Homo sapiens: one gene and its partners. The protein of the gene in region 3 purifies or fractionates together with the protein of the main gene of each other region. This does not show direct contact. Each region holds a gene or a part of one and is shown on either strand. Other genes may lie near its edges. The genes, in order: WDR83, RBM22, SYF2 and AQR.

Region 1 (6,548 bases), on a different chromosome or scaffold from region 3:
AAACACAGCCATCGTTGCCCAGCAGCTCTAGTGACCCCAGACATTGACATGGGCCCTGTCTGGGAGCGAATGTCTGTGAAGGGCTTCCTTCATCTGGGACACACCTCTCAGCCTGTTTGGCTACGGTGTCCTCCCTCTGTGTCTGTCTCCTGTGACTGGCTGACTGGGCCCACCGTGCCCCCGCCTCCCCACAGCGGAACGGGGCCGACTACGCTGTTTACATCAACACAGCCCAGGAGTTTGATGGCTCTGACTCAGGTGCCCGACCAGACGAGGCTGTCTCCTGGGGCAAGATCCGGGTGGATGCACAGCCCGTCAAGGTAAGCGCTGGCTGGGTGGGGCATAGGGTCTCTGGGACGATGAGTGTGGGTCCCATGGCTTACCCAGGTTCCCCCCTACCCAGGTCTATGCTGACGCCTCCCTGGTCTTCCCCCTGCTTGTGGCTGAAACCTTTGCCCAGAAGATGGATGCCTTCATGCATGAGAAGAACGAGGACTGAGCGGCTGCGGTCCCAGGAAGGTCTTACCCCCTCTTCTATTTATTAATTTGCAGACCCAGCCCCTCCCCTACTTTTTGGTCAGCTACGTCTCTAGAATAAGATGGTATCTGAAGTCCTTCCATGTCTGTGTCTCGGTCCTTGGTCCTGTTGGTGGGTCCCCTGGCTTCAGCCTGCTCCATCCTCTGCCTCATAGGCCTCCTCTCGCCAGCACTGGACGCTGCCTCCCATGGCGGTCAGCAGGCAGGGCTCTGTTGGGTGGTAGGCCAGCGACTGCACCACACCGGAACCCACAGGCAGGGCCAGAGCCAGCGCACCCTGTGGAGCGAGGGGTAGGGAGTGGTTATCTGTGGCTGGGCTGTACCCTGGTTTCTGAGGTCCCTGGGCACCCCCCATCTCAGTCCTGCCTGAAGCCCTCAGTCACCTCTCCCCGACCTTCAGCCACCTGCCTCTAATTGCCTCCTAGACACTGCAAAATTAATCTACCTCAGACTGAGCCCCTCAGTAGCTCTGTCCTACCAGGTGTTCAGGCCGCAAGTCTTGGGAGCCTCTTATTGATTTTTTATTTTTTAAAATAGCAGAGATGGGGTCTTACCATGTTGCCCAGGCTGGTCTCGAACTCCTGGCCTCAAGTGATCCTCCTGCCTTGGCCTCCCAAAGTGCTAGGACTACAGGTGTGAGCCACCATGCCTGGCTTTGGGAGTCTTTTTCTTTTTCTGTTTTTTTTTGAGATGGAGTCTTGCTCTGTCGCCAGGCTGGAGTGCAGTGGCGCCATCTGGGCTCACTGCAACCTCCGACTCCCTAGTTCAAGCGATTCTCCTGCCTCAGCCTCCCGAGTAGGTGGGATTACAGGCACGCGCTACCATGCCCAGCTAATTTTTGTATTTTTAGTACAGATGGGGTTTCACCATGTTGGCCAGGATGATCTCTATCTCCTGACCTCGTGATCCACCCCCCTCGGCCTCCCAAAGTGCTGGGATTACAGGTGTGAACCACCATGCCTGGCCGGGAGTCTTTTTCTTGTACCACATGTTCCTCTATCAGTTATTCCTCTTGGCTCTGCTTCTAGACCATGTCCAGAGACTGCTGATTTTCTGCCACTACCATGTTTGGAGCATGCCTTGCTCACAGCTTGCCTGTTCCCTGCCACCAGCTGGGCTCCATCCTGTCCATTTGGCAGCCCCAATGATCCCCACTTCCCCTGGTCCCAACACAATGTAAACAGTTCCTCAAGCAAGCCATGCTTCCTCTTTCCACCTTGAAAATGTCCCTTGATGTGCCTGCCCTCCAAGGCAACTTCTGTTCTACTGGGCCCATAAGAAATAGGTGGAACATTCTTGCTACCTTAGTTCCTAAAGCAAGAGCTTGTCCGCCAAGTCTTCAGGGCCCCCCCGGTTCCCTCCATCCTCTTATGGGCCTTAGTTCCCCTGGCCAAGCCCAGCGCTGATGTCTCCTTTGCCGAGATTCCCCCGGCTCTGACCCCACTACACCAGGATGGTCTGTTTCTGGCCTGACTCCCCACCAGGCTGGGACATGTCAAGGACAGGGCTCAGGGCTTGAAACCATGCACAGGGATGCTAAGATGTAGCTCCAGTTTCTTGAATGACTGCAGCCCTATCTCACCCAAGGTTAGACATGGCCGTCGGCTCCCCCTTGCCCAGGGGTCAGTGCCAGTTGCTCGGCCTGGCATCTGCAGCCCAGCCTGACCCCGGATCTTGCCGCACCTGCCGCCACCCTGAAGCCTTTGTTTCCTGACTGATGCATGCGCAGGCTACACCTCTTAACATATGCTGTTCCCTTTGCCTGGAATGCCCTTCCTGCCTCATCTTCTCTCTAGCCCAAGCTGGGCACGGTGTCTCAGGCCTGTAATCCCAGCACTTTGGGAGGCCGAGGCGGGTGAATCACTTGAGGTCAGGAGTTTGAGACCAGCCTGGCCAACATGGTGAAACCCTGTCTCTACTAAAAATACAAAAATTAGCCAGGTATGGTGGTAGGGGCCTGTAATCCCAGCTACTCAGGAGGCTGAGACATGAGAATCACCTGAACCCTGGGGGGAAGAGGTTGCAGTGAGCTGAGATGGCGCCACTGCATTTGCCTGGGCAATAGTCTCAAAAAAAGAAAAAAGGGCCGGGTGTGGTGGCTTACGCCTGTAATCCTAGCACTTGGGAAGGCTGAGGTGGGTGGATCATGAGGTCAGGAGTTTAAGACCAGCCTGACCAACATAGTGAAACCCTGTCTCTACTAAAAATACAAAAATTAGCTGGGTGTGGTGGCACGCACCTATAATCCCAACTACTCAGGAGACTGAGGCAGGAGAATCGCTTGAACTTGGGAGGCGGAGTTTACAGTGAGCCAAGATTGCGCCACTGCACTCTAGCCTGGGCGACAGAGCAAGACTTGTCTCAAAAAAAAAAAAAAAAAAAAAAAAAAGATCCTAGCCTTCAGGCCCTGGAGTGACTGAGGTAAGGACAGGGCTGAGATGGGGCAGGCATCTAGGTATGAAGTAGGGCTGGGGGCACCTCACCTCCACCAGGTCCCAGAAGAACACCTTCCCGTCCTCAGAACAGCTGACCACATGTGTGTCACGCTCGCTCAGGCAGCAGTCCAGCTTGTATTCCTGGTTCTTATGGCCCTTGTACCTAAGGGTGGACAGGATCGGGGGGCTTGGTCCTCTCCAGGGGTGGGAGAGGAGGGAAGGGGATCCCCACGACCACAAGGACTCACTCGCCCAGCAGCTCCCCTGTGTCTTTGTCCAGGAGCCGCAATGTGGAGTCCAGGCTGGACACCAGGGTGCACTGCCCATCCCGGCTGAAGCAGGTGCAGGTGATGGGGCCTTGGGGGAAGGGTGGGTAGGTGAGTGAGGGTGGGGTGCCCCTGGTTGGCCCCCCATCTTCCCTGCCTGTCCCACATCCCCAGCCACACTCACTGCCCACGTAGTCTGAGAAGAGCTGCCCCATCCTTAGGTCATAGCGTCTCACGCGGCCATCCACGGAGCTGCAGGAGAGGGTAGATCCAGCGGGAACCTTGACTACACTCACATGGCTCCAGGCAGCCCTGTGCCTTCCCAGCCCAGTGGGCCTGCTCTTCCAGTGCACAGGAGTGGAATTCTGAAGCTCTGGCCTTGAGACTCAGGCCCAGGGCCAATTACGTCCTACTCCATCATTTCCAAGACCCACACCCCCTTTCCAAGCCCTTGGAGTCCTTCTGATTCCCCCTTTTCTTCCTTTTGTTTGAGACAGAGTTTTGCTCTTGTTGCTCAGGCTGGAGTGCAATGGCATGATCTTGGCTCACCGGAACCTCTGCCTCCCGGGTTCAAGAGATTCTCCTTCCTCAGCCTCCCGAGTAGATGGGAATACAGGCATGCACCACCACGCCCTGCTAATTTTGTATTTTTAGTAGAGACGGGGTTTCTCCATGTTGGTCAGGCTGGTCTCGAACTCCCAACCTCAGGTGATCCGCCCACCTCAGCCTCCCAAAGTGCTGGGATTACAGGTGTGAGCCACCCCACCTGGCCCAATTCCCCCTTTTCCTGCATTCTCCAGCTCCTCCTCCTCAGTACTCAGTCCCACCACTTTCCCCACTACCCAGCACCAGCATCTAGACTGTTCTGGTCTCCCTGCACCCCCCACAGCCACCAGAGGGAGCACTTTTCAAAGTACAGTTGACCCATGAACAACACGGTTTGAACTGAACGCGTCCACTTATATGTGGATTTTCTTCTGCCTCTATCAGCTGTGAGACACCAAGATCAATCCCTCCTCTTCCTCCTCCTCTGCTTTCTCAACACGAAGATCTTTATGACGATCTCTTCACTTCCACTTAATGAATAGAAAATATATTTTTTCCACCAGGCGCGGTGGCTCACGCCTGTGATTCCAGCTCTTTGGGAGGCCAGGGCAGGTGGATCACGAGGTCAAGAGATGGAGACCCTCCTGGCCAACATGGCGAAACCCCGTCTCTACTAAAAATACAAAAATTAGCTGGGCGTGGTGGCACGCGACTGTAGTCCCAGCTACTAGGGAGGCTGAGGCAGGAGAATCGCCTGAACCTAGAAGTTAGAGGTTGCAGTGAGCCGAGATCACGTCACTGCACTCCAGCCTGGCAACAGAGCGAGACTGCGTCTCAAAAAAAACAAAAATTCTTCCTTATGATTATTTTTATGTATTTATTTATTTAATTTATTTACTTATTTTGAGACGGAGTCTTGCTCTATCGCCCAGGAGTGTAGTGGTGCGATGTCGGCTCACAGCAAGCTCTGCCTCCTGGGTTCACTCCATTCTCCTGCCTCAGCCTCCTGAGTAGCTGGGACTACAGGCGCCTGCCACTATGCCCGGCTAATTTTTTGTATTTTTAGTAGAGACGGGGTTTCACCGTGTTAGCCAGAATGATCTCGATCTCCTGACCTCATGATCCGCCTGCCTCTGCCTCCCAAAGTGCTGGGATTACAGGCATGAGCCACAGCGCCCGGCCTATTTTTATTTATTTTTAGAAATCATTTTATCTTTTTTTTTTTGAGATGGAGTCTCACTTTGTCGCCCAGGCTGGAGTGCAGTGGCACAATCTCGGCTCACTGCAACCTCCAACTCCCGGGTTCAGGCGATTCTCCTGCCTCCGCCTCCCGAGTGGCTGGGATTACAGGCTCCCGTCACCACACCTGGCTAATTTTTGCATTTTTAGTAGAGACGGGGTTTCACCATGTTGGCCAGGCTGATCTCAACCTCCTGACCTCAAGTGATCTGCCCACCTTGGCCTCCCAAAGTGCTGGGATTACAGGTGTGAGCCACCGTGCCCGGCCAGATTATTATTATTTTGTAGACAGTCTGTCTTTCACCCAGCATGGAGTGCAATGGTGCCTCGAACTCTTGGACTCAAGTGATCCTTCCACTTCAGCCTCCCAAGTAGCTGGGATTACAGCTGTGTGCCACTGTGCCCAGCTGAGAGTAGGTTTTAATCTGAGCATGGGGGCAGCTATGATTCCCCGTAGCACCTGGGGTGAGACCAGGTCCTGGCTCCACTCACCCTGCCAGGATCTCGTGGTCTGACACCTTCACACTGGACACGCCATCTCTGGCCTCATCCAGCGTCTGCACTGGCTCAGGCCTCCGTGAGCGGCAATCCCAACAGCGGATACTGGAATCAATAGAGCCTGTGAGGCCAGCATGATGGTGAGGTCAGGTTTGGAGGGGGAGGGCAGCACCCTGGGCCCCCGTGCTTAGGCCCCAGACTCACCGGACAGGATAACTGTGGCCTCTTCATTAAACTGCACCGTGTTCACCTTCTGAGAAAGTTATTGCCACTCAGAGGAGGCTGGACTTTGGAGGACTGGGATAAAGGCAGGGTTCCCAGTGTCGGTTAAAGCAAGGGCGAAGGGGAGGTGAAAGGTTTTGGGGGAACAGCAAGGACAGGGGTTGGTGACTGCCTAGCCTGGCATGCGGAGTGGGGGATCGTCATCTGGGGAAGGGATCCTTACGGTGTAATGGGGGTGGCCGTGTCACCACCTATGCGCTAATACGGGTCCCCTCCACTCAAATGAGGGTCTCCAGGCTTTCACTCACCCCTGCGTGGCCCCGGAATTTGCGCACGACCTGCCCTGATGCCACATCCCACAGAACCACCGCCTTGTCCCCGCCGCCGGAGCAGAGACTACTGTTGTCAAAGGAGCTGGAGTAAAGGAGGAGGAGGATCAGCATCGACCTCGGATCCCAGCCTCAGCGCTCCCATCCCAGCCTGGTCCCCGGCTCACCCGGCCGCATCCAGCACCTCGTAGCCGTGGCCGCTGTACGTCCGCAGCAGCGTCCCCCGAAGCGGGTTCCACAGCTTCAGCGTCTTGTCACTGCCGCACGTCAGGCAGTAATTGCCATCCACTGGGGAACACCAGGCGGGGGTTACTGGGCCGTCGATCTCAGGAGGCGGGAGGAGGACCCGGAATGAAGACGAAGGCGCTCACCATTAAATCGTACGGCTCGCACTGCCCCCTGCCCGCAGTCCAGCGTCTTCAACCGTTTCTGCGGCAGCTCTGGAGGCCGCGGCTTTGGCTCAGGGAAAGCCATGC
Region 2 (7,967 bases), on a different chromosome or scaffold from region 3:
AGGCAACAAAAGCAAAACTCCATCTCAAAAACAAAAACAAAAAACAAAAAAAAAACCCAAGCCCCGCTTGATTCCTAACCAGATTGACCAAACCCCATGCAGACGGTCTAACAGAACACACTTGCCCATTTCCGAGCATTAATATGATTTACCTCATTCTCTTCTGTTATATAAGCAATGACTTGGCCGGGCACGGTGGCTCACGCCTGTAATCCCAGCACGTTGGGAGGCCAAAGCAGGCAGATCACTTGAAGCCAAGAGTTCAAGACCAGCCTGGCCAACATGGTGAAACCCCACCTCTACTTAAAGTACAAAAATTAGCCAGGTGTAGTGGTGCAGGCCTGTCGTCCCAGCTACTCAAACCCAGATGTTTGAACTAATGGACAGAGACTTTAACATGTTGTTGGGGCTCAGAAAATGATACCCCAAATTAAGGCTCTGAAGCAGCCTCAGAAGCAAAAGTTTCTCTCTGACCTTCTGCCTTCCTGTCTCTGGCCCTTCATTCTTCCCCAAGCCTAGCCACAGACACTGAATCCCTTTTCCTCAAGGTGGGTCATAGAGAGAACCCCTTTTCCCCAAAGCCAGCCATAAAATGTAAAATACTACTCTAGGCCGGGCGCGGTGGCTCACACCTGTAATCCCAGCACTTTGGGAGGCAGAGGCAGGTGGATCACAAAGTCAGGAGTTCGAGACCAGCCTGACCAACATGATGAAACCCTGTCTCTACTGAAAATACAAAAATTAGCCAGGCATGGTGGTGCGTGCCTGTAATCCCCGCTACTCAGGAGGCTGAGGCAGGAGAATTACTTGAACTTGGGAGGTGGAGGTTGCAGTGAGCCGAGATCGCACCATTGCACTCCAGCCTGGGCGACAGAGCAAGACTCTGTCTCAAAAAAAAAAAAAAAAAAAAAAACTACTCTAACTTCCGCCTTGCTTTTGTGTAAAAACTGGCTCTGAATAAATTATCTGAGCTACTTTGTTTTAGATTGTAGGTCATAAGACCCCCATTCCAAAGACGGTCCTGTACATACCCAGAAGGAAGGAATGCTGCCGAGAGAGGCCAAGAATCTAGACAGACAGGCCTCGCTGGGTTTCCCCACTCAGTCTATTAGCGCTAAATCAGTACGCTTTTTGTCCAATCCTATTTCTACATAGCTGTCCATACTTTGTTGAACCTAGGCATATAAATGGACAATTTCCCATCTGTGTCTTCATTCTGAAGGCTCCTATGTCAGGTAAAACTATGATCAAATAAATTTGTATGTCTTTTCTCCTATTAATCTGCCTTTTGCTAGTTAATTTTCAGTGAATCTTAAGAGGGCAAAGGGGAACTTTTCTGTTGGCCCCTACAATGTTAAAAAATCTGGTGGAAAACATGGAGCCAGGTGCCATGGCTCACACTTGTAATCCCAGCACTTTGGGAGGCCAAGGCTGGAGAATCACTTGAGCCCAGGAGTTCCGAGACCAGCTTGGGCAACATGGTGAGACCCTGTCTCTACAAAAAAGTTAAAAATTAGCTGGGCACCGTGGCCTGCTTCTATAGTCACAGCTACTTGGGAGGCTAAGGCTGGAGGATCCCTTGAACCCAAGAATTCCAGGTAACAGTGAGCTATGATCATGCCTGGGTGACAAAGTGAGACCCCCATCTCGAAAAAAAAGAAAAGGAAAATATGGATTATATATATTGTGAAAGGAAATTAAATCTTGGGACCCCAAACTCATTAAGCCAAAGGGAAAAGTCGAGCTGGGAACTGGGTCACACAAACCTGCCTCCTGCTTTTGGTTCCTAAATAAGATGGCTATAAGATGAAAAGCTACATGCCTCCCCCATATGTTGCCCAGTAATTCAGACCCTTCCATTAAACCAGCAAACCTTTTTCATTTACAATCTCATTGGACATGTTTGGTATTCCAGTGCTATGATCACTTAGCTTCAATCTTTGTACCACAGATAGGTATCGAAGATGTTATATGGCATATAGAGGCCATAACGAATTACACCCAAAGGCCCTAAATGGTAGCTGCATGAGTACCTCTTTGCTAAGCAATGAGGTCATGCTTATGAGGAAAGCTGTGTTGCAAAACTATGTGGCTTTAGATATACTCATGGCAGCACAAGGGGAACCTGTGCCACCGTAAAAACTGAATGTTGTGTGTATATTCCAGATGAATCAAAGAACATAAACTGAATTATGACCAGTATGAAAACCCAGATAAGCAACTGTCAGATCCAAAACCCTCACTAATCCATTGCTTGAGTGGTTGGTTTGGATCCTGGGGAATTTAGTGGCAGAAGCTATTGCTTATAATAGAAGGAATAATTTATGTTCTGTCCTGTTTCTGCTTACAATGTTGTTATAGTACGTGTTTGCAAATAAGTCAATATGCAACCGAAAGGGCTAAGGTAATGATTGCCCAGAGAATTGCTTTAATTGAGGAGGCAGTAATATAATAAAGCTTGACCCAGCTTCCAGGTTTGCTTTCCTTTTGTTGCTATAAATCTGGCCTAGTCCCTATATATATTTTTTCATCTCTTTTCTTTTTTCCTTTCTAGGAAAGTAAAATTCCTCACTAGGAATTTCCTTGTGGGCAAAATATGGGGGAGGCATGTAGCTTTCCATCTTGTAGCCATCTTATTTAGGAACCAAAAGCGGGAGGCAGGTTTGTGTGACCCACTTCCCAGCTTGACTTTTCCCTTTGGCTTAATGAGTCTGGGGTCCCAAGATTTAATTTCCTTTCACATTTCCCCCTTTTTTTCTTTAACATCTTTTGGAGAAAGCATTTTAAAAGGAATATGTGTTCCTGGCCTCAGTTCGCTTTTTCCTCCTTTTTTGAGCTGGTTTCTTGTCGCTAGGATGGTTTATTCCAGGAAATTCAGGTCTCACGTTACTAGGAAGGCTCATTCCTAGGAAGTCATGTTCCATGTTGCTAGGAAGGCTCATTCCTAGAAGTCATGTCCCACAAAGATTAAAAAATAAATTGGGGGAGGAAAGAGGGAAAAAGGAAGGAAAGGAGATGATTCTGAGGGCTCCAGACTTAAAGGAGAAAAGGGTCCTATCTCTTTTCTCTTAATGTTAAATGTTATTTTGTTTGTGGAATGTTCACTCTATAATATATATGTTGATTAAGTATACCATTATGCATGATTTGCAATATTGATTGACCTGTGGAGTGCCTTGAGCCTGTGTGTCCAAGACTCTGAGTGCTGAGTGAGTGGGAAGTACTAAGGAGAATTGCTTTCTTGGAAACTCCATGTAGTTCGTGGCTTTTGTGATTGAAATAGCATCAGTAAAAGTCTGGCATTGTGGAAAAACACAAATGTACGTGGACTCTGTTATTTCTGACCTTGCACTCCTCACAAGGCATGTGAAATTGGAGTCACAGATGTAGAAACCAGGCAGAAGACAGTCTGAAGAGATGATACTTGAGAATTTTCCAAATATAATAAAAGACAACAAATCACAGATCCAAGAAGCTCAGATAAACCCAAGGACTTTCTTATAAAGGAAAAGATATACTTACCATATGATCAAATAATCTCACTCTAAGGCATTTACACAAGCAAAATGAAAACCAATGTCCATACAACGATCTGTATGTGAATGTTTATAATGGTTTTATTTATATTCACTAAAATCTGGGAACAACCCAAATATCCAGCAACTGGCAAGTGAATTGTATGATATATCCATACAATGGAATTCTACTCAGTAATACAAAGGAAGAAATTATTGATACATGTAATAATATGGATGAATCTCAACTACAAAATACTAAGTGAAAAAATATCAGATCCAAAAGGATATATAGGATTCCACTTATGTGACATTCTGGAAAAGGCAAAACTAGGGACAGAACACAAATTAGTGATTGCCATGGTTTGAGTATGGGATAAGTGGACTAACTACAGAAACAAGGGAACTTTGGGGATGACAGACAATTCCATATTTGACTGTAAGTGAATGTATGTACAAAATTCAAAACTAAAAAGGATAAAACTTTATGTAAATTATACTTTAAATCAACTTTTTTTTTTAATGAGGTGATTTAAATAAATGTGTTAGGTAGCTTGATGACACGGTAAGTATGAAAGTGGTACCAGAATGGCTTGAAACTCATAAAATATTGGCAGAGTGGTTATGAGTTATTCCAAAAATCAAATAATGCATATGTTGATTCGTAAGACCCTTGTCATTTCAGAAGCTGGAAATGAAACAGTACTAATGAATTTGTGGCTTCACCACTTTTTAGCTCCACAACCAGGAGCTATATCAGGAGAGATTAGGTTAATCTCTCTAAACCTGTTTTCTTTTCTATAAAAGAGGGATCATCATACTTGCCTACAGGGTAGAGTTACCAGATAAAATACAGGACGATTGGTTAAGTGATGTGAATTTCAGGTCAACCACGAATCCTACTTTAGGACGAGTAGGTACCATATATATTTATAATTAAAAAGCGATTCGCCGTTAATCTGAAATTCAACTTTAGACGTTCTGTAATTCGTGCGTGTGTGTGTGTGCATGTGTGTGTGTGAGTGACAGAGAGAGAGAGAGAGAGAGAGAGAGAGAGAGAGAGACAGAATCAGAATCTGGCAGCCCTACAGAGAGCCCTACAGAGAGGTTATGCGAATAAATAAGACACTGGAACCGCAAGACGTTCGCCCAGAGTTTGGCATAATAAGCGCCTCAGTGGTAGCGAACGCTATTTTAACCCCAGCCTCTGATGCATTACGTCTTCCTTTATTCTTTCGCCCAATTGTTAAATGAATCAACTGTACGTGTGGCCCTTCATTCCAAGCAGGCAAAAACTCGAAGGAAGCATCCAGGTGCATTATACCAGGACCCCAATTGTTAAGCTTAGAAATTCCAAGAGCGGGCGACGTCATGACGCAAAGGCCCCGCCCCGGAAGAAGCCCTAGACGCGTAAATAAGACGCCGACCGGCGCGGCGCTAGCCTCGGGGCTTGACGGGATTGTGGCGGTCCTCTCTCCCAATTCGGAAGCTACAGCTACCTCCGGACGCTCTCAAGATGGCGACCTCTCTGGGTTCCAACACCTACAACAGGCAGAACTGGGAGGATGCGGTGAGTGTGCCTGCCGGAGGAGGATGGAAGGAGGAGGCGAAGCCGCGCACCTTGCAAGCTGGCAGGACAGGGCCTGCGGCGCGGCCGAAGGAATACCGGGGAGGAGCCAGCGCGGCGGCCTAGCTTGGCCGGAGCAGGAGGGCGGAGGGCGATCCTCCTGCGGGCTTGAAGGGAGGGGGCTTAGCCAGGGTCCCGGGACCAGCACCCTTTCCATCCCTGCCCCCTCCAGCCTATTAGAGCTGGTTTTCTTTTCTCCCGCCGCCTGCCGGAAGTGCAGACAGCGCCCCCTCCCGCGATCGGGTCGTGATGGACTTCGGGTTCCTGCCGTGCCTAGTTCCCCACCCTCGCTTCCCGCCCCCTCGCCACCCCAAGTGTCACTGAGGTGTCAGGGTCTTCGGAGGGTGGTCCTCAACCAGATTTCCCATTTTCACCAGGACTTCCCCATTCTGTGCCAGACATGTCTTGGAGAAAACCCATATATCCGAATGGTGAGTGATCGCGTGTGAAACGAGTTATTCATGTCCTGTCGATGTTGTGGTACTTGCACACTGTGAAGTGTTTCTCTTAGACAAGCAGAAAAAATGATGCTCTTTTACTAACGCGAAGTGCTGGACGACTTGCAAAGAACTGTCATGTGTATTCTCTTACGAATCCGGTAACACTCCTGTAATGTAGGGGTAATAACGATAGCTAGTATTTGTTGAGCATTTACCTAGGAAATAGGTCTGTTGACCAGAAGGTGAGAGCGTTTGTGTCTTTTCATACAATAGTAAGGAATGGAGCTGGGATTTAAGTTCACATATTCTGGCTCTAGGAATGTCAGCATGATAGGAGGAGAACCAGAACTAGAAACTAGGTTTCCTGAATCCTGGTCAAATGCCTTTTGGCCAGTGTACTTTATCTCTTTAAAGTAAGCATTCCCCCTTTGTTACAAACTAGGGTAAAATTAGAACCAGTTAACAATAATAAGGTTAGGGCTGTATTATTGTGTAGTCGTAGAGGTGTTGATATGTTAGTATGTTCACGATGTTTGAATGGTTCAAGATGTTTGAATAGTTCTGTTTAAACAGAACATTTACTATATTCCGGGCATTGGCACAGGACAAGTCTACAGTAGCTACCTTTTGACTAAACTTTGTAAAGTGGGCGGGCCACAGCTGTATCCTCTCTGATTTAGGGATTGTGGAAAGCATTAGGAATGTTAGTTCTTGGGAGTGAACTTGGGAGCCAAAAATGAACCTAAGAGTTGTGGCTGTGGAAAGACACTCACTTACCTAGCATTAGATGCATATACTCTATTTCTTTTTTCTGTAGAGACAGCATCTCGCTATGTTGCCCAGGCTAGTCTGGAACTCCTGGGCTCAAGCAATCCTTCCACCTTGGCCTCTCAAAGTGTTGGGATTACAGGCGTGAGCCACTGCCACCCAGCCCAGATCCATATACTCTTGAGATGTTATCACTTATAATATGTTGTTATAGTATGTTCCCTACCCTCTTCCCAAAAAAGGTTGGGTTTTGGGTTTTGTTGTTGCTGTTTTTCTCTCTCTAGGATGCCAGGGATTTCCAGACACATTTCTTGGGTTATGTTTAAGGAAAGAGTAGACATCTGGCTTTTTTCTTTCTGTAACTCCAGTTCTTTTCTATTTTTTTTCTATTATAGACCAAAGAAAAGTATGGGAAGGAATGCAAAGTAAGTATGTCTGTTAAAGAGTAATGATTTCTGTTTCATTTTTCTTTTCTCTACCAAATTAGCCTTCAGCTTACTAAGTTTTGAGGTCTTCCAGTAAAAATCAGTGCTATACAACTTTTTATGTATTACTGATATATTCATTGGCTGGCAACTGTTTATGTGGGAGGTAAGAAAATGAACCCTCTAATGTAGAGATTCTTACGGTGTCAGTGGATGGGCACTGGAGGAGTTTGTACACCAGGTGGTGTATGACTGTCCACTCGAGCATTTTAGCTGAGGAGGAAGGTCATTCTTGTCAGAAGCTTCTCAAAAAATTACATGACACTCCCCACTCCCCCTAAAAAAGATTAAGGTTCAGATTATTATTGGTGCTTAGCTCTAGGATGGGAAGAACTTTGACCCTTTGGCTATTTCATTTCTGTACTCTGAATTTTTGCTGGAGAAGGATGCTGAAAATTGTATTGAAACATCAAATCAACTAGATGATTGCTAAGGTCTCTTCTAAATCCTACATTCAGGGATCCTTTTTTGAATGCCCCGTTGTTATCAGATCTCCAGATTGCCCAGATCAGGACCATTGACATTCTATGGCTCTTGCTTTGTGTTCCAGATCTGTGCCAGGCCATTCACAGTGTTTCGCTGGTGCCCTGGAGTCCGCATGCGTTTCAAGAAGACTGAAGTGTGCCAAACCTGCAGTAAATTGAAGAATGTCTGTCAGACCTGCCTCTTAGACCTAGAGTATGGTATGTTTGACCTGTCCAATAAATCTGAAAGTGTGCAGGTGCCTAAAACTACAAGTCAGTCTTTTGTCTCCCACTTCGCACCCTAGCTCTGGTTCTGATTTCACTTTGGAATGTCTGCCGTGGTCTGCTTTTCCCAGGAAAAGAACCATAATTAGGCCACTCTAGAGTCCTGAACAATAGTAGGAACTTAAGGAAAAGTTGGGAATTAATCAAAAGTGGCCTAAACCTTCATCTCTGTAGCCCAAGTGAGGTAAAAGGCGTTGATCCTATGATAGATAATTTATTTGCCTTAGGCTTCTTTCTTGATCCAGAGCTTTTTTCCACCATCCCAATCAGAAGCTCACAGGGTAATTGTGCTTTATTTTATTTTATTTTTTGAGTTAGGGTCTCACTCTGACACCCAGGCTAGAGTACAGTGGTGTGATCACAGCTCACTGCAACTTCGAACT
Region 3 (7,932 bases):
TCTGAGTGAGGAAACCTTTACAATGATTCCAGCCCCAGCCCCTAATCTGACTGCAACTGCATGAGAGACCCTGTGTGAGAACCACACCAATTCTCAGACCTATGAGAGATAATAATAAAATAATATTTGTGCTAAGGTACCAAGTTTTGGGATGATTTGTTATGCCACAATAGAGAAATGATACAGTTCATAACAGTTTTTTTTTTGTTTGTTTGTTTTATTTTGAGCCGGACTCTTGCTGTGTCGCCCAGGCTGGAGTGCAGTGGCGCCATCTGAGCTCACTGCAACCTCCGCCTTCTGGATTCAAGTGATTCTCCTGCCTCACCCTCCCGAGTAGCTGGGACTACAGGCGCACGCAGTCACGCCTGGCTAATTTTTTGTATTTTTAGTAGAGACGGGGTTTCACTGTGTTGACCAGGCTGGTGTGAAACTCCTGAGCTCAGGCAAATCACCCACCTCGGCCTCCCAAAGTGCTGGGATTACAGGCGTGAGCCACTGTAGCCAGCCCAGTTTTTAAAAATCACACAAATTATCATATTGCACAGAAAAGCAATGTTGAAAATCCTGTGAATACTCTTAATAAATCCTTACAAAATCAGTTGAGCAATTTTTACCACACATCTTTCCTTTCTATACTGCTTATCACTTCCAGAAACTTTAGTTAATTACAAACATTTCCATTTTTTTAAGTCCAGACTTGCAGATTTTAATTTGCAATATAAACAAATTGGTAATATAGAGCCCAATTTTACTGGCAGGAATAGGATTTTTTTTTTTTTTTTTCAAGACAGGGTCTCGCTCTGTCACCCAGGCTGAAGTGCAGTGGTGTGATCAGGGCTCACTGCAGCCTTGACCTCCCAGGCTCAAGCAATCCTCTCACCTCAGCCTCTCGAGTAGCTGGGACTACGGGGGCAGGCTACCATGCGTAGAGATGAGGTCTCGCTATGTTGCCAGGGCTGGTCTTGGACTCCTGCGCTCAAAGGATTCTCCTGCCTTGGCCTCCCAAAGTGCTGGGATTACAGGCTTGAGCCACCGTGCCAGCCAGGATTCTTAATAACAGTAAAATAAGAAGGATGTAAGCACTACTCTTCCCCAATAACTGAAATCCAAGAGGCACAAAACCACATGTAATTGTGTGGTTTTTTTTTTTTTTTTTTTGAGACGGAATCTGTGTCTCCCAGGAGTGCAGTGGCACAATCTGGGCTCACTGCAAGCTCCGCCTCCCGGGTTCACGCCATTCTCCTGCCTCAGCCTCCTGAGTAGCTGGGACTACAGGCGCCCGCCACCATGCCCAGCTAATTTTTTAGTAGAGACGAGGTTTCACCATGTTAGCCAGGATAGTCTTGATCTCCTGACCTCGTGATCCACCCGCCTTGGCCTCCCAAAGTGCTGGGATTACAGGTGTGAACCACCGCGCCCAGCCGCGATTCTATTTTTTATTCAGAAATACTGTTGACTATTCTTAGTTTTTCCATGCAAACTTTTAAATTTTTTTTAATTTTAGAATTGACACACTTATTTTTTATTTATTTTTTGAGACGGAGTTTCACTCTTGTTGCCCAGGCTGGAGTGCAATGGCGTGATCTCGGCTTACTGCAACCTCCACCTCCCCGGTTCAAGCAATTCTCCTGCCTCAGCCTCCAGAGTAGCTGGAATTACAGGTGCCCGCCACCACGCCAGGCTAAATTTTTTTATTTTTTTATTTTTTGTAGAGACGGGGTTTTGCCATGTTGACCAGGCTGGCCTCGAACTCCTGACCTCAGGTGATCTGCCTGCCTCGGCCTTACAAAGTGCTGGGATTACATGTGTGAGCCAAGGCGCCCGGCCGAAATACTTACATGGTTCAGAAGTACATATATCTTATTACACCCCCAAAACAGATGATGGCTTTTTTTTTTTGAGATGGAGTCTCCCTTTGTTGCCCAGGCTGGAGTGCAGTGGAGCGATCTTGGCTCACTGCAACCTCTGCCTCCCAGGTTCTAGCAGTTCTCCCACCTCAGCCTCCTTAGTAGCTGGGAATACAGCTGCGCACCACCATGCCCGGCTAATTTTTGTATTTTTAGTAGAGACGGGGTTTCACCGTGTAGGCCAGGCTGGTCTTGAATTCCTGACCTCAGGTGATCCGCCTGCCTCTCTCTGTCCTTTGTCCACAAGGACATTCCCTGTGAGGAAGGTAGGTAGCTTTTTTATCTTAGTGGCTTTTTCAGGTATAGAATGGGAGATAGGTTTGCCCTAAGCAGTTCCCAGCTTGACTTTTCCCTTTGGCTTAGTGATTTTGGGGCCCCAAGATTTATTTTCCTTTCAATGTGTAATTGTATCTGTAACATAAATTCCCAGAATTATGATAGCTGAGTCAAAGAGTAAATGCCTTAATTTTTACAGATATTGCCAAATTGTCTTCCCTAGGGGTTCAATCAATTTTTAGTCCTACCAGCAATATGTGTAGGATTCATTTTTCTTCGGTCTCATCAACACAATGTGTTATTGAACTTCTAAGATTTTTGCCACATTATTTTCCAGTTCCAAAAAACAAAAACAATGACCCACTGAGGTTCTGATGGGAATAACATGACATTTATAAACTCATTTGCGATACTCCTTTGTGATATTGTTTTTATAATATTAAGTCTTCCAACCAGAAAATAGGTTATCCACCATTTATTCAGATTTAATTTACTTCAAATTATCTTTTATTTTTATGTTACCATTTAAATTTTGTACCTAGGTATCTTTTCATTTTAGGGATTACTTTTCTTTTTTTTTTTGGTTTTTTGAGACAGAGTCTCGCTCTGTTGCCCAGGCTGGAGTGCAGTGGCGCAATCTCGGCTCACTGCAAGCTCTGCCTGCCGGATTCCCGCCATTCTCCTGCCTCAGCCTCCTGAGTAGCTGGGACTACAGGCGCTCGCCACCACGCCCGGCTAATTTTTTGTATTTTTAGTAGAGATGGGGTTTCACCGTGTTAGCCAGGATGGTCTTGATCTCCTGACCTCGTGATCTGCCCGCCTCGGCCTCCCAAAGTACTGAGATTACAGGCATGAGCCACTGCACCTGGCCTACTTTTTCATTTCTGTATCTAACTAGTAGTTGTTAGTGCAGAAAAAAATAATTTTCATATATTCCTCTTATATCCAGCACCTTACTTATCTTAGTAACTTTAGCACTGTTAGTAATTCTGGCATTGCCTCTCTGCTGAGCATGTAAGAGTAAACAAGATGGGTGGACTCTGCTGTTCTCCAGTAATAACGCTGATGAGAAAAATAGAAAATCAACAGACAAAAATAAAACTTATGCAATTGGAGAGAATTAAAATAGTGTCAAATGACAGTACTAAAAGTGAGACAGGGTAGTCAGGGAAGACCTGCTTCTATTTTTAAAAATTTATTTTTATGGCCAGGCACAGTGGCTCATGCCTGTAATCCCGGCACTTTGGGAGGCTGAGGTGGGCAGATCATGAGGTCAGGAGTTCGAGACCAGCCTGGCCAACATGGTGAAACCCTATCTCTACTAAAAATACAAAAATTAGCTGGGCATGGTGGCAGGCACCCGTAATCCCAGCTACTCGGGAAGCTGAGGCAGGAGAATCGTCTGAACCCGGGAGCCGGACGTTGCAGTAAGCCGAGATCGGTGCCACTGCACTCCAGCCTGGGTGATAGTGCAAGACTCTGTCTCAAAACAAAAAAACAAAAAAAAATTACTTTTATTTTTTAATTTAGAGACTGATTCTTACTTTGTTGTCCAGGCTGGTCTTGAACTCCTGGGCTCAAGCAATCCTCCCGCCTCCGCCCCGCAATGTGCTGGGATTGCAGCCATGAACCACCACACCAGGCCAAGGGCAAGACCTGCTTCTTGGAGAAAGTGACAACACCTTAAGCTCTAAATGGAAAGAACTTTCCACTCATGGGAATGAATGGCACTGCAGGTTTTTCCTGCTTACTGCAGACAAAACCAATTCACTGAAAAGTGCTACTGCAGTATACAGTTGTATTAACCTGAGGCTGGCCTCAGGGAAGAAGGGTTACCACTCAAGTAAGTTTTCCTGAAGGGTCAGCTCAGAGGTTAGGGTATTTCATAGTTTGGTGTGGGCAGGGCACTAGGGAATGGATGCTGCTGATTGGTTGGAGATGCAATCACAGGGGTGTGGACTACACTCCTCAACAGCTGAGTCCGCCTCTTGGGGGAGGAGTGGGACAGAAGAAGCGGTTGGGTCATGGGTCACGAGTCTGGGTGGGGTCAGTTAGTTGCCAGAATGCGAAAGTCTGAAAAATGCCTCAAAAGACCAATCTTAGGTGCTACGATAACGTTATCTACAGGAATAATTGGGGAAGTTACACATCCGATGTCCTCCGAAACAATGGCTGGTTATCGTTTACTACATTTTAGCAGAATTCTCCCCTCATAATCCTAACCTCCCGGTCTTTCATTAGTTTTATAAAGGCAGTTTCAGCCCCCAAACAAGGAGGGGCCCTGTTTAAGGAAGGGACTATGATCATCCTTGCTTAAAAGTTAAACTATAAATTCTCCCATGGTTAGCTTGGTTTATGCCCAGGAATGAGCGAAGACAGCCGGCCTGCGAGGCTAGAAGCAAGATGGAGTGAGCCATGTTAGATTTCTCTCACTGTCTTTGCAAAGGCGGTTTCCAGGAACAGCGTGCAGAATAGGGGGCTATCAGGCTCCTTTTGGTCATTTCTTCCTAGCCGTCCGATTCTGAGCTCTTCCCAACCCTTTTCTTGGCGACTTACCTCCCGCTGTCCTGGCCCACGCTACTTTTCGCGGCTGCGCAAGACCCTACGCAATCCAAAATATTTCATAGCTAAAAGGGTCCCAACTTCCGGAGACCTCCCGGAAGGGGCGGGGCTTATGGTAGCCCATTCGTACGTATCGGCCCGTTTGTCTGAAGGTTGACGGAAGTGCTCTATCTTGTTGCCGGAAGTGGGAAGAGAGAAAGGTTGTGATGGCGGCTATAGCTGCATCCGAGGTGAGTTCCACCCACCGTACACCGGGGGTTTTGTTGGTGAGGGTTCCGGGGAGCGGCCTGGAGAGAGGTGGAGGCGAAGTCTAGTTTCGCTTCAGGGAGGCTCAGACACTGTGGGGTCAAGTCGGCGGTGGAGGCCCTAGGCCCAGCCTGTGGGGACCGGCGGGGACTCGGCCTGGGCAGTCCTGGGAGAAGCTGAGCCGGCTCTGCCTGAAGCCAGTTCTCCTTGTCGCAGGTGCTGGTGGACAGCGCGGAGGAGGGGTCCCTCGCTGCGGCGGCGGAGCTGGCCGCTCAGAAGCGCGAACAGAGACTGCGCAAATTCCGGGAGCTGCACCTGATGCGGGTGAGTAGTCTTGGAGGCCGGCTTAGATCCGTCATCTGGCCAAGCCTGTGCGCTTTTGTAGAGGGGACGAGGAAGCCACACCACTGCGTCTGACAGACCAACAGAGCAGGATCATCTGAGAGGAAAGCTCTGTTCGGTGGTACTCAACCCTGGCAGCACATTGGGATCATTCTGAGAACATTTGAAAATATAACTGTTCACTCCAGCCCCTCTCCCACCCACATCCAATTTAATGTATCTGGGTTAGGTTTGGGAGTCTCCATTACTAACAACCTCCCTGCTCCGTGATTCCAACAAATTCTTCATTTTACCTAGGGAAATATGTAGAGCTAGAGACAGGAAGAAACTTGTCTAGTGTCAGTAAGAGACCTGGTTCACTTTAAAAAATAATAATCTTCTGTCAGAATCTGTTTGAGTGAAAAGAAAATAATCATCTGTTTTTGGGACTTCTGGGGGAAAAGAATAAAAAGAAAATAAAAAAAATGGCAAACTTTTGAAAGTCTACAGTGTGGTAGTTCAGCCAGTTGATAGGGAATCTGATGTTTAAGTGCCCTGGAGGTGCAGAGGAGGAGAGAGGAATGCAGTTTGTGGGTCTCCAGGGGGTGCCTCATGTAGTAGGTGACACCTAAACTACTGTTTGAAAGCCAGACAACTAAAGGAGTTAGAGAAAGAGATATCCAAGCAAAGGGAACAAATTCAAAGAAAGAGAATTTGTATTAGGGATAAGAGTCCAGCAAATAGCTTGCTGCAGTTGGAGCAGAGAAAGAGAAAAGCAGCCCCTGTTTCACCATGGAGTGACCTGACAGCTAGGCCATGGTTTCACAAAATCCCAAAATCACTCTGACTGTTGTAGTGAGACAAAACAAAGAAGACTTTTCAAATTACAAGAATGACCACATATTTCTTTCTTCTGACTAACACCAGTGACTGTTATTAACAAATACAGCATTAGTCTCACTCCGTTACTTCTGCCTCCTATATAAAAATGTAAGATACTGGGCCGGGTGCGGTGGCTCACGCCTGTAATCCCAGCACTTTGGGAGGCCGAGGAGGGCGGATCACAAGGTCAGGAGATCAAGACCATCCTGGCTAACACGGTGAAACCCCGTCTCTACTAAAAATAGAAAAAATTAGCCGGGCGTGCTGGCGGGCTACACGGGAGGCTGAGGCAGGAGAATGGCATGAGCCCGAGAGTCGGAGCTTACAGTGAGTCGAGATCACACCACTGCACTCCAGCCTGGGCGACAGAGCGAGACTCCATCTCAAAAAAAAAAAAAAAAAAAATCTAAGATACCTAATTGTAGAAAGCCCCTGCTTTCTGACAGTACCCAATCCACATCCTTAACCCTCCCCTCAGTCACCTGATACAAACCCAAATCCTGGAACAAGCCCTTCCTAACACCCTGTCACTCAAATGCCCACGGTTCCCCGTGGTTTGCTCTCTTCTGTGCAACAGACTCAACTTTGTTGACCGTAGGTATGTTCTTGGCGTCTTTAATTGCAGGGCTTTTCCAGGGCCAAGAATATACTAGGGATGGTAGTTGGGAGGAGTATCTCTCTTTGCCGAGGGAAAGTTAATCTAATAAACAATTAAAAAGACATGCTTAAATATTTAGAGTGATTGTGTAAGGAACACATGTCTGGAAATTAGGAGGCGGGGCTTCCTGGACAAACTGCCACCAGCTTATGACCTAAGGAATGTCTAACTCAAGTTTTCCTTAAGACGATACACTCATTTTGCTTTATGCAATTAAGTTTATTTAAAAATAGACTCTTCTCCCTGCTACCCCAGCTCCAAAAAAAAAAAAAGACTCTTCAATGATACTTCAAATGGAAAATTCCTTTCATTTTTCATTTGTCAATGCAAACTGTGAAAATATTTAAAAGGAGGGGAACTTGGAAAGCATTAGAGGCATTAAGATAGGTTTTAAATCCTCTAACCCAAATTGAGGCTTTTTTCTTGAATTAGGATTAAAAGATAATTGAGGCCTGGTGTGGTGGCACATGCCTGTAATCCCAGCACTTTGGGAGGTCCAGGCGGGCAGATCACTTGAGGCCAGGAGTTTGAGACCAGCCTGGCCAAACTGCAAAACCACGTTTCTACCAAAAATACAAAAAAATAAGCCAGGCATTGTGGCACACGCTTGTAACCCCAGCTACTCGGGAGGCTGAGGCATGAGAATTGTTTGAACCCCAGAGGCGAAAGTTGAAATGAGCTGAGATGGCTCCACTGTACTCCAGCTTGGGTGACAGAGTGAGACTCTGTCTCAAAAAAAAAAAAGAAAGAGTGTCTTTCACATCATGTGACGTAATTTTTTTTTTTTTTTTTGAGATGGAGTCTCGCTCTGTCACCCAGGCTGTAGTGCAGTAGTGCAATCTCAGCTGACTGCAACCTCTGCCTCCTGGGTTCAAGTGAATCTCCTGCCTCAGCCTCCCGAGTAGCTAGGATTACAGGTGTGCACCACCATGCCTCGCTAATTTTTGTATTTTTAGTAGAGACGGGGTTTCACCATGTTGGCCAGCCTGGTCTTGAACTTCTGACCTCAGGTGATCCACCTGCCTCAGCCTCCCAAAGTGCTAGGATTACAAGCGTGATCCACTGCACCTGGCCAATTTA
Region 4 (7,022 bases), on a different chromosome or scaffold from region 3:
AAAAATAGCATCAAAAGGATATATTCTTTTGTGTCCTGTTTCTTTCAATCAGCATGTTTCTGAGATATATTCATGTATGTGTACATGAGAAATTCATACCTTTTTGAGTATTCTTTCACTGAACAAATATACCACAGTTTTGTCCACTCACCTTTTCATGAAAAGTTGGCCTGTTTCTAGTTTGAAGCTATCTTGCATAAAGCTGCAATAAATATTCATGTACAAATATTTTTGTGGACATGTTTTCATTGCTCTTGAATAAATATGCAGGAGTGAAATTGCTGAGCTGTACAGTAAGTGCATACTTTATAAGAAACTGTCAAACTTTTCCAAAATTGTTATCCCACTTTACACATTCCCCAGCAATGTGTAAACTCTAGAACCCCAGTTCTAGAGTTTCAGTTGTTGTACATCCTTGCCAACATTTGTCATAATGTCAATCTTCATCATTTTACCCATTCTTTTGGGTAGGTAGTGGTATATCATTGTAGCTTTAATTTCTATTTCCTTGACAACTAATGATGGTAAGCACTTTTTCATGACGTATTGGCTACCTGTAGGTCTTCCTTATGTGAAGTGTCTGTTCAAGTCATTTGCCCATTTTGTATTGGTCTGCCTTATTTAGTAATAACTTTTATAGGAGTTCATATATTCTGGATATACGTCCTTTGTTGTTATGTGTGGATATTATACCTGGGAATTCTGTTGCCACTCTGACCATGTGGAGAACTGGGCTCACATGCTGACATTAGCAGGGCAGAATAACATCGTTGAGCTACCCTGTAACCCAACCTTGGAACCACCCTATTTCCATCTTGTTATGAGAGAAAGTAACTTTCCTTATTATTTGAGTAAGATTTTCTGTAAAAGGACTCAAATATTGAGGTCCTTCTATTTCTAAACTTGCAAAATTATTAGTTTCTCAGTTTCACTCTATTCCTTATGAAGTATTCTGTGCAGTGTCTATTCTTCCCTGTATTCCTTTTGATTTTGTTTTCATTCCTCTGATTTTATTTTCTTCCAGCTTACATTTCATCTCTTTCTGAGTTCTTACATTTCTCTGCTTTGTAGCTTTTCCTCAAAGATATGGTTACTTCATTAAGTATTTCCCAATTTACAGCAAAATGTATATTTGAAAATTTCATCTTTTCCAGGCCAACATGGTTTCTGGAGCATGTATCCTATCTATGTTTTGCTGTTCTTCATTTTTTCCTATAAATTGAGCTTGTGCTAGTTCCCTTTATACTATTCATCACTGAATAAGTAAGTTTCTTAGATTAGCTATGTGGGAGACATGAAGATGGGGTGAGCAAGGCTGTTTTCTGAAGGCTGGACGGTTTTCATAACAAAAGGCCCTCTTTTCTTCTGCTACTGCACAGATAGTCTATAAAAATAGTTTGTCCCCTCTTTTTCTCATTTTCCTGTTACATTTGCATAATTTCCAAAAAAGGTGAGCTTTTACATAGCCATGTTCATAGCCAAAGTCCTAATTTTATCATTAGTATTATCTTTATGTTTTTTCTAATGTATTCTACCCTTCATTAATGAAAGAATCATCATTTTATTTGATATTATGCATTTTTGATTACATAAAAAATATATATATTTTTAAAATCCCAAGGTCTGAATACATTTTACAATCTTCCCTTATTCCCAAGACAACCTCCCCCTATACACAATAAAAAGCAGTCTAAATTATACCCCTGCAAAGCAAAACATACTCCTTGTAACAGTACACATATTATAATGTAATTTTGTTATATATCATTTTATGAACAAAAAGTTTCAGAAACATTTCTTTTACCATCAATAAATATCTTTTATGTGGTAGCTGAGATAGAAAGTCACATCAAACCAGCAAGACTGTCAGAGAGTTATTTATAGTTCCCATTATTTCATTTTCTCAAATATCTTAAAAAGAGATAGCAAAGAGGCAAAGCAGAACAATATAAACCTTTCCATCTTGCCAAAATGATGAATAAGAGAACATATTATAATTATAAAAGTACCTTGTTTGGTCTTCCAATCAATGGATTGTTTCCACATCGTCTATTGATGATGTCGCGAATAAGATGCTTTTGGCCATTATATGTTGTTAGAATACTGATTTTGTCAGCAGGGTAACCAAGTAAACACATGTACATAAAAAGTGCTACTACATATTCTGCCTCTCCAAGATTCTGTAATGCAAACATAATCAGACTGTGCATTCATTTGCTTTTGTTTCAATTTTATAGAGAAAATATCTCATCTAGATAAGCAAAACTTGTTCACTTTGCACACTGCAAGAAGTGAAGACTTAGTAACTTGGATAAGTGAGTACCTTTCATAAAACTGAGGGATAATTTTATGCTACATTAACAGTGATAAATACAAACTTTTAATTTGCAATACATGGAACAATCCTAAAATAAAACTTACCAACTTAAAGGCTTAATATTCCTAAGACCATAACAATCACAATATAGATTAATACTATTCTGGCCAGGCATGGTAGCTCACATCTGTAATCCCAGCACTTGGGGAGGCCAAGGCAGACAGATCACTTGAGTCCAGGAGTTTGAGACCAGCCTGGACAACATGGTGAAACCCTGTCTCTACTAAAAATACAAAAATTAGCTGGGCATGGTGGTGCATGCCTATAGTCTCAGCTACTCTGGAGACTGAGGTGGGGGGATCGCTTAAGCTTGGGAGGCAGAGGTTGTGGCGAGCTTCAATCGTGCCTCTGCACTCCAGCCTGGTGACAAAGTGAGATCTCATCTCCAAAAAAAAAAAAAAAAAAAATTCTATACAATGTGCCACAACTGTAGTTACACAGACACAAAACTATAAAGGAACAAAGTAACTAAGAAGCCAATACAATACCCAGTTTAATAGCAAATACACCTAGCAGTATTATAATTGACTCAATTTTTGCACAGTGCTTTTCCTCCTTCCTCATGTTTCTTAATGTTTTTTGTATGCTTTGTTTCTGTTCTCTGCGTAATGGTTGTCACTTCTACTAGATCACTTTAGGTGGGATGAGGATGTGACCGCAAATTGGTCAGTCTGGTTTACTGTTAAATTACAGACTAGAAAGGAGCTTAAAACTAAGGCTTATTCAACTTAAAGGTGAGGAACCACACACAAAGCTCTTTGGTCCAGTTCAGTAGAGACTAAATCCAAAGTACTAGATGAAAGAAGAAAGTAAAATAAGAATATAAACACAATATTTAAAAAAAAAAAAAAAGGAAGCTGGATTTCATGCAAAGGCAACCGAAAGATTACTGGAAGACTTCTAAAAATATCATTTATATTCTGGTTCTTTGTGACGCACAGCTTGAGTTACAAGTTCATTTAAGTTTTCTAGTTCTTTAACACTGCCCAATTTGGTACTTTGCCCAAAGGTTAGACATGAAGCATTAACAATAAAACAACATGAACTGTATTGTGACCAAACATTTTAGAACTCGCTCCAAATGAGTCAAGTCCCCTTCAAATTAGTGACTTTTATTCATTTATCCACCTAGTCTTTCCCTCTCGACACTAATTCTTCAAATGTTATCACTTAAATGCATAGTATTCTTATTTTGGGGGACAGTGTTTTCAACTCTCCAGAAATATATTTAATAGTGGCAAATCATCATCTGAAAATATATTTATTTCTTGAATCGCTAAAAACTCATCTAGAGTTAGGCTTAATGAATAAGAAAAACAGGTAACCAATCTGGATAAAAATGTTTCAATCAATACTACAGTATGACTCAGGCAATGAAACTGACTCAAAGAAGAAATTCCAAAAAACCAATATGTAATGAAAACATCAGTTGATTACTGATAGAATAATTAATTTCTAAGGTGGCTATTAGGAAACATCACTGATTTGAACTAGGTTCTAATATTTTTAAAGTTATCATTTAAAGGTCACATCTGTTCTCAGGCATTAAGTACACAAATAGAGTAACTTGATTTAATATAACCAAATATTTGGAGGGACAATAAGATCTGCATGAGTTACATCTATGCATACACATTTAAGCTGATGATAAATGATGCTTTTTCATGAATAACTCAAGATCTCTAATTTGTATAACAACCTATATTGGATATTTTGCTGTAAAGAGAGAGAGAAAAAAAGAAAAAAATTAAAATAACCCCAAATGCTACCAACCAAAGACTATATTTTGATGTATATGCTGCCAGGTCATTTTGTATAGATTATCTGTATGTATTTCTATATGTATGTATTGCAGCTCCTTTTTAAAATGAGATACTGTAGATATACTTTGCAACTTTTTTCCACTTAATATAGCATAAACATTCTTCCTGTTAGTAAATACAATGTTATCATTCTTAGTGGCTATCTAGTATTTCTTTTATATGGAATATGTAATAATGCAATTAATCCCTACTGACAGATATTTGGGTTGTTTCTCATTTCCAGAATAATTTGCAGTGATGAACATGAAGCATACAAGTCTTTCCAAACTTGCCCAATTATTTTTTTAGGATAAATTCCTAGATGTGAGAACATTGCTTTTCATACATGCTGACAATTTGTCCACCAAATTATTTTCCTACTAGCATTGTATGAGAATAAAGTTTCCCCAAACCTATCCCAACACTGAGCATTGTTATAGAAGTGAAAATGTAATTCAGTGATTTATACTTGTTATAAAATATGAATTGCATATTCATATTTTCCTGTTAGTCTTGATTTTTTAAAACAATTTATGAGTTCTATAAATATATTCAGAATTCAACTTGTTTGTTAAATATTGAAATAAATTTTAAATACTGAAAATAAATCTTTTCTCCAATCGCTATTTTTCTTTATGATTTCTGCTTTTGTAACAAGCTTAGGAAGACCTTTCTCACTCCAACACTGTATATTCATTAATATTTTCTTCTAGTAGTTTCTAGTTTGTTTAGTTTCTTTAGTGCATGTATTTTTAATCAATCTGAAATCGATTTTTCATATGCTATGTGTAAGGTGGGGTTCCAACTTTCCTTTTCTCAACGGCCAAATGGTTAAGTATCACTGATTTAGGCATATGTCAGCCAGCAAATGCAAAATAAACTTATAAGCTTCCTATTTTTTCTTACCTGATAGAAGTAAGGATTAGGTTCAGATTCTCCCACTCCTTGAAAATCTTCAACATTAATGAGCTGGAAGTCATACAGTAAGCCAGCATTTGCTGTACTAAACTCTGGCAAGAGCTGCACATGGGGTAAGTTTCCTAGATTCTTGTATCGCCAGTTGTAGAGGTTGCACAAGCTTTCCAAAGACAAATTCCCCCACAAACAGAAAATATTAGCAGTGTAAAATCTCTTTTAATATACATAAGGAGGTTTCTGTTTCTGTGCTTCTTTTAAATTTTCATGTTAGCCATTTTGGCTCATCTTTTAAGCAATAATGCTCTTTCAACCTTAGCTTCCCTACTTCAAGTAACCAAGGGTCAGAAGACTGAAGGTACTACAAAAATGAGAGTTCTATTACGCTCTCTGAGGTCAATGCTATCTTTATCCCTTAAATTAAAAAATCAAGGAAGACTAAAAATTGAGGACATTTGGGGGTAACTATGAGATGGGGCCTGCATCCTTTATGAAGTAAGAATTGGTGTGTTCTCCTCTTGTTCACTTTATTTTTAGATTTTAAAATTATATTAACTGTATATCTTTTGGGGACATGAAGAAAGGAGAAGGGACAATGAAAAGAAGCCTTTAGATTATAAGTTACTTAAATTAATATTAATGAATGAAATGAAGGAAATAAATTATTTGGTCCATTCACATCTCTTGCAGAAGTCGACAAAAGTGCTTTTGGATTTATGGATAGCCAAGTTCCTGGATAGCCAAGAATGCTAATAGTCTACACAAAAGCTATTCACAAATACTTGGATCATGGAACAAATGTCCTTAAATGGGAATGATTTTTTTTCCTGTCTCTTTTACCTTGCTCTGGCTCTCCCTTGAGCATCAAGGTCAACAGTCGGAACTCCAACGCGAACAAAGCGAGTGAAGAGAGACTGCTCCATGTTTGAGTACTTTTGAAAGGCCATGTTCTTAATAACTGGAGGTAACTGGTGATGATCGCCAATCATAATCCATCGTTTTAGTCGGCTAAATCCATCCTGAGGATTCTAGAAATGAAAAGTAAGGAAATGGCAAAATACTCTATTATCCTCTTGTCTCCAATTTATTACCCGAGAGACTCAGTCTTCATCAAACAGCTTCCTTATCTTACAAATTACCAAACTTTACCAGCTCCACAAACAGGAGTCTAGCAAATTTACAGAACAATTTGTGAACCAATTATGGACGTTATTGCTCCTGGGTGACAGTGGGTGAGGGAGAATGGAGGTATTTAGAAGGCAAGCATGGAATTACCCTACTTTAATAGGCAGGGTAATCCAAAGAAGGCTGGAAGGATTAGGTCAGGCATTAGGTAACGAGCACACAGAAAGAAACAGAAGCCCAAGAAGAGAAATGGAAAGATGCGAAATAAACATGTTTCACAATTAGCTGAGGACCAATTCTGAACCCACCAAAGCAGTAAAAACTACCTTCTTTAATTATCTACACTACTACTTCAATTTCCTACTCTATATGTCTCCTAGTTCCTTGAAACATATCCTGATAGAATACATTCCAAGTTCCAAGTAGCTTCACTTATAAAAACAACTTCTGGAACTCAATTTATCTGCATATTAGAGTGGTCTCTATCCTTAAGTTGGGAATTCCACATTTTGTTTTTAATGCTTCAATAGTAAAGAATATTTTACAGTAAAAAAATTCTTAAATAGCACAATTTAGCTCAAAAACTTAGGCATAAAGAAAAGCAATGCACTCAGTGAAAATGAAAAAAATAATTCTACAAACAATTATAACAAAAGAAATGAAGAAACAGCTCATCTTCCCACCAAACTGCACAACAATGTAATTTTCTTGATTAAAATTACTAAATCTTTTCAAAACTACAGAAATAGACTATGAAATTTTAAATAGTACTTCTCGAAGCAAAACAACTACTAAATAGCCAG

The links.
Region 1: the proteins of SYF2 (region 3) and WDR83 purify together in Homo sapiens (affinity purification with mass spectrometry; 3 studies listed by BioGRID and IntAct, with this or other methods). This does not show direct contact.
Region 2: the proteins of SYF2 (region 3) and RBM22 purify together in Homo sapiens (co-immunoprecipitation; 3 studies listed by BioGRID and IntAct, with this or other methods). This does not show direct contact.
Region 4: the proteins of SYF2 (region 3) and AQR purify together in Homo sapiens (co-immunoprecipitation; 3 studies listed by BioGRID and IntAct, with this or other methods). This does not show direct contact.

Annotation. Positions count from the first base shown.
Region 1 is NC_000019.10:12,669,789-12,676,336, reverse strand, and holds the end of WDR83 (WD repeat domain-containing protein 83), read right to left. Parts: 5' UTR 6,547-6,548; coding exon 6,444-6,546; intron 6,361-6,443; coding exon 6,240-6,360; intron 6,158-6,239; coding exon 6,052-6,157; intron 5,775-6,051; coding exon 5,726-5,774; intron 5,643-5,725; coding exon 5,516-5,642; intron 3,868-5,515; exon of another isoform or gene 3,757-3,867; intron 3,491-3,756; coding exon 3,423-3,490; intron 3,330-3,422; coding exon 3,221-3,329; intron 3,136-3,220; coding exon 3,021-3,135; intron 815-3,020; coding exon 665-814; 3' UTR 546-664; downstream 1-545. Other genes in the region: DHPS (deoxyhypusine synthase), read left to right, coding at 195-320, 404-499. UniProt on the Homo sapiens protein: Molecular scaffold protein for various multimeric protein complexes. Acts as a module in the assembly of a multicomponent scaffold for the ERK pathway, linking ERK responses to specific agonists.
Region 2 is NC_000005.10:150,698,050-150,706,016, reverse strand, and holds the start of RBM22 (pre-mRNA-splicing factor RBM22), read left to right. Parts: upstream 1-4,954; 5' UTR 4,955-5,031; coding exon 5,032-5,085; intron 5,086-5,519; coding exon 5,520-5,573; intron 5,574-6,745; coding exon 6,746-6,775; intron 6,776-7,385; coding exon 7,386-7,518; intron 7,519-7,967. UniProt on the Homo sapiens protein: Required for pre-mRNA splicing as component of the activated spliceosome. Involved in the first step of pre-mRNA splicing.
Region 3 is NC_000001.11:25,229,487-25,237,418, reverse strand, and holds the start of SYF2 (pre-mRNA-splicing factor SYF2), read left to right. Parts: upstream 1-4,916; 5' UTR 4,917-4,951; coding exon 4,952-4,975; intron 4,976-5,207; coding exon 5,208-5,315; intron 5,316-7,932. UniProt on the Homo sapiens protein: Involved in pre-mRNA splicing as component of the spliceosome.
Region 4 is NC_000015.10:34,868,743-34,875,764, forward strand, and holds part of AQR (RNA helicase aquarius), read right to left. Parts: intron 6,123-7,022; coding exon 5,935-6,122; intron 5,258-5,934; coding exon 5,086-5,257; intron 2,181-5,085; coding exon 2,010-2,180; intron 1-2,009.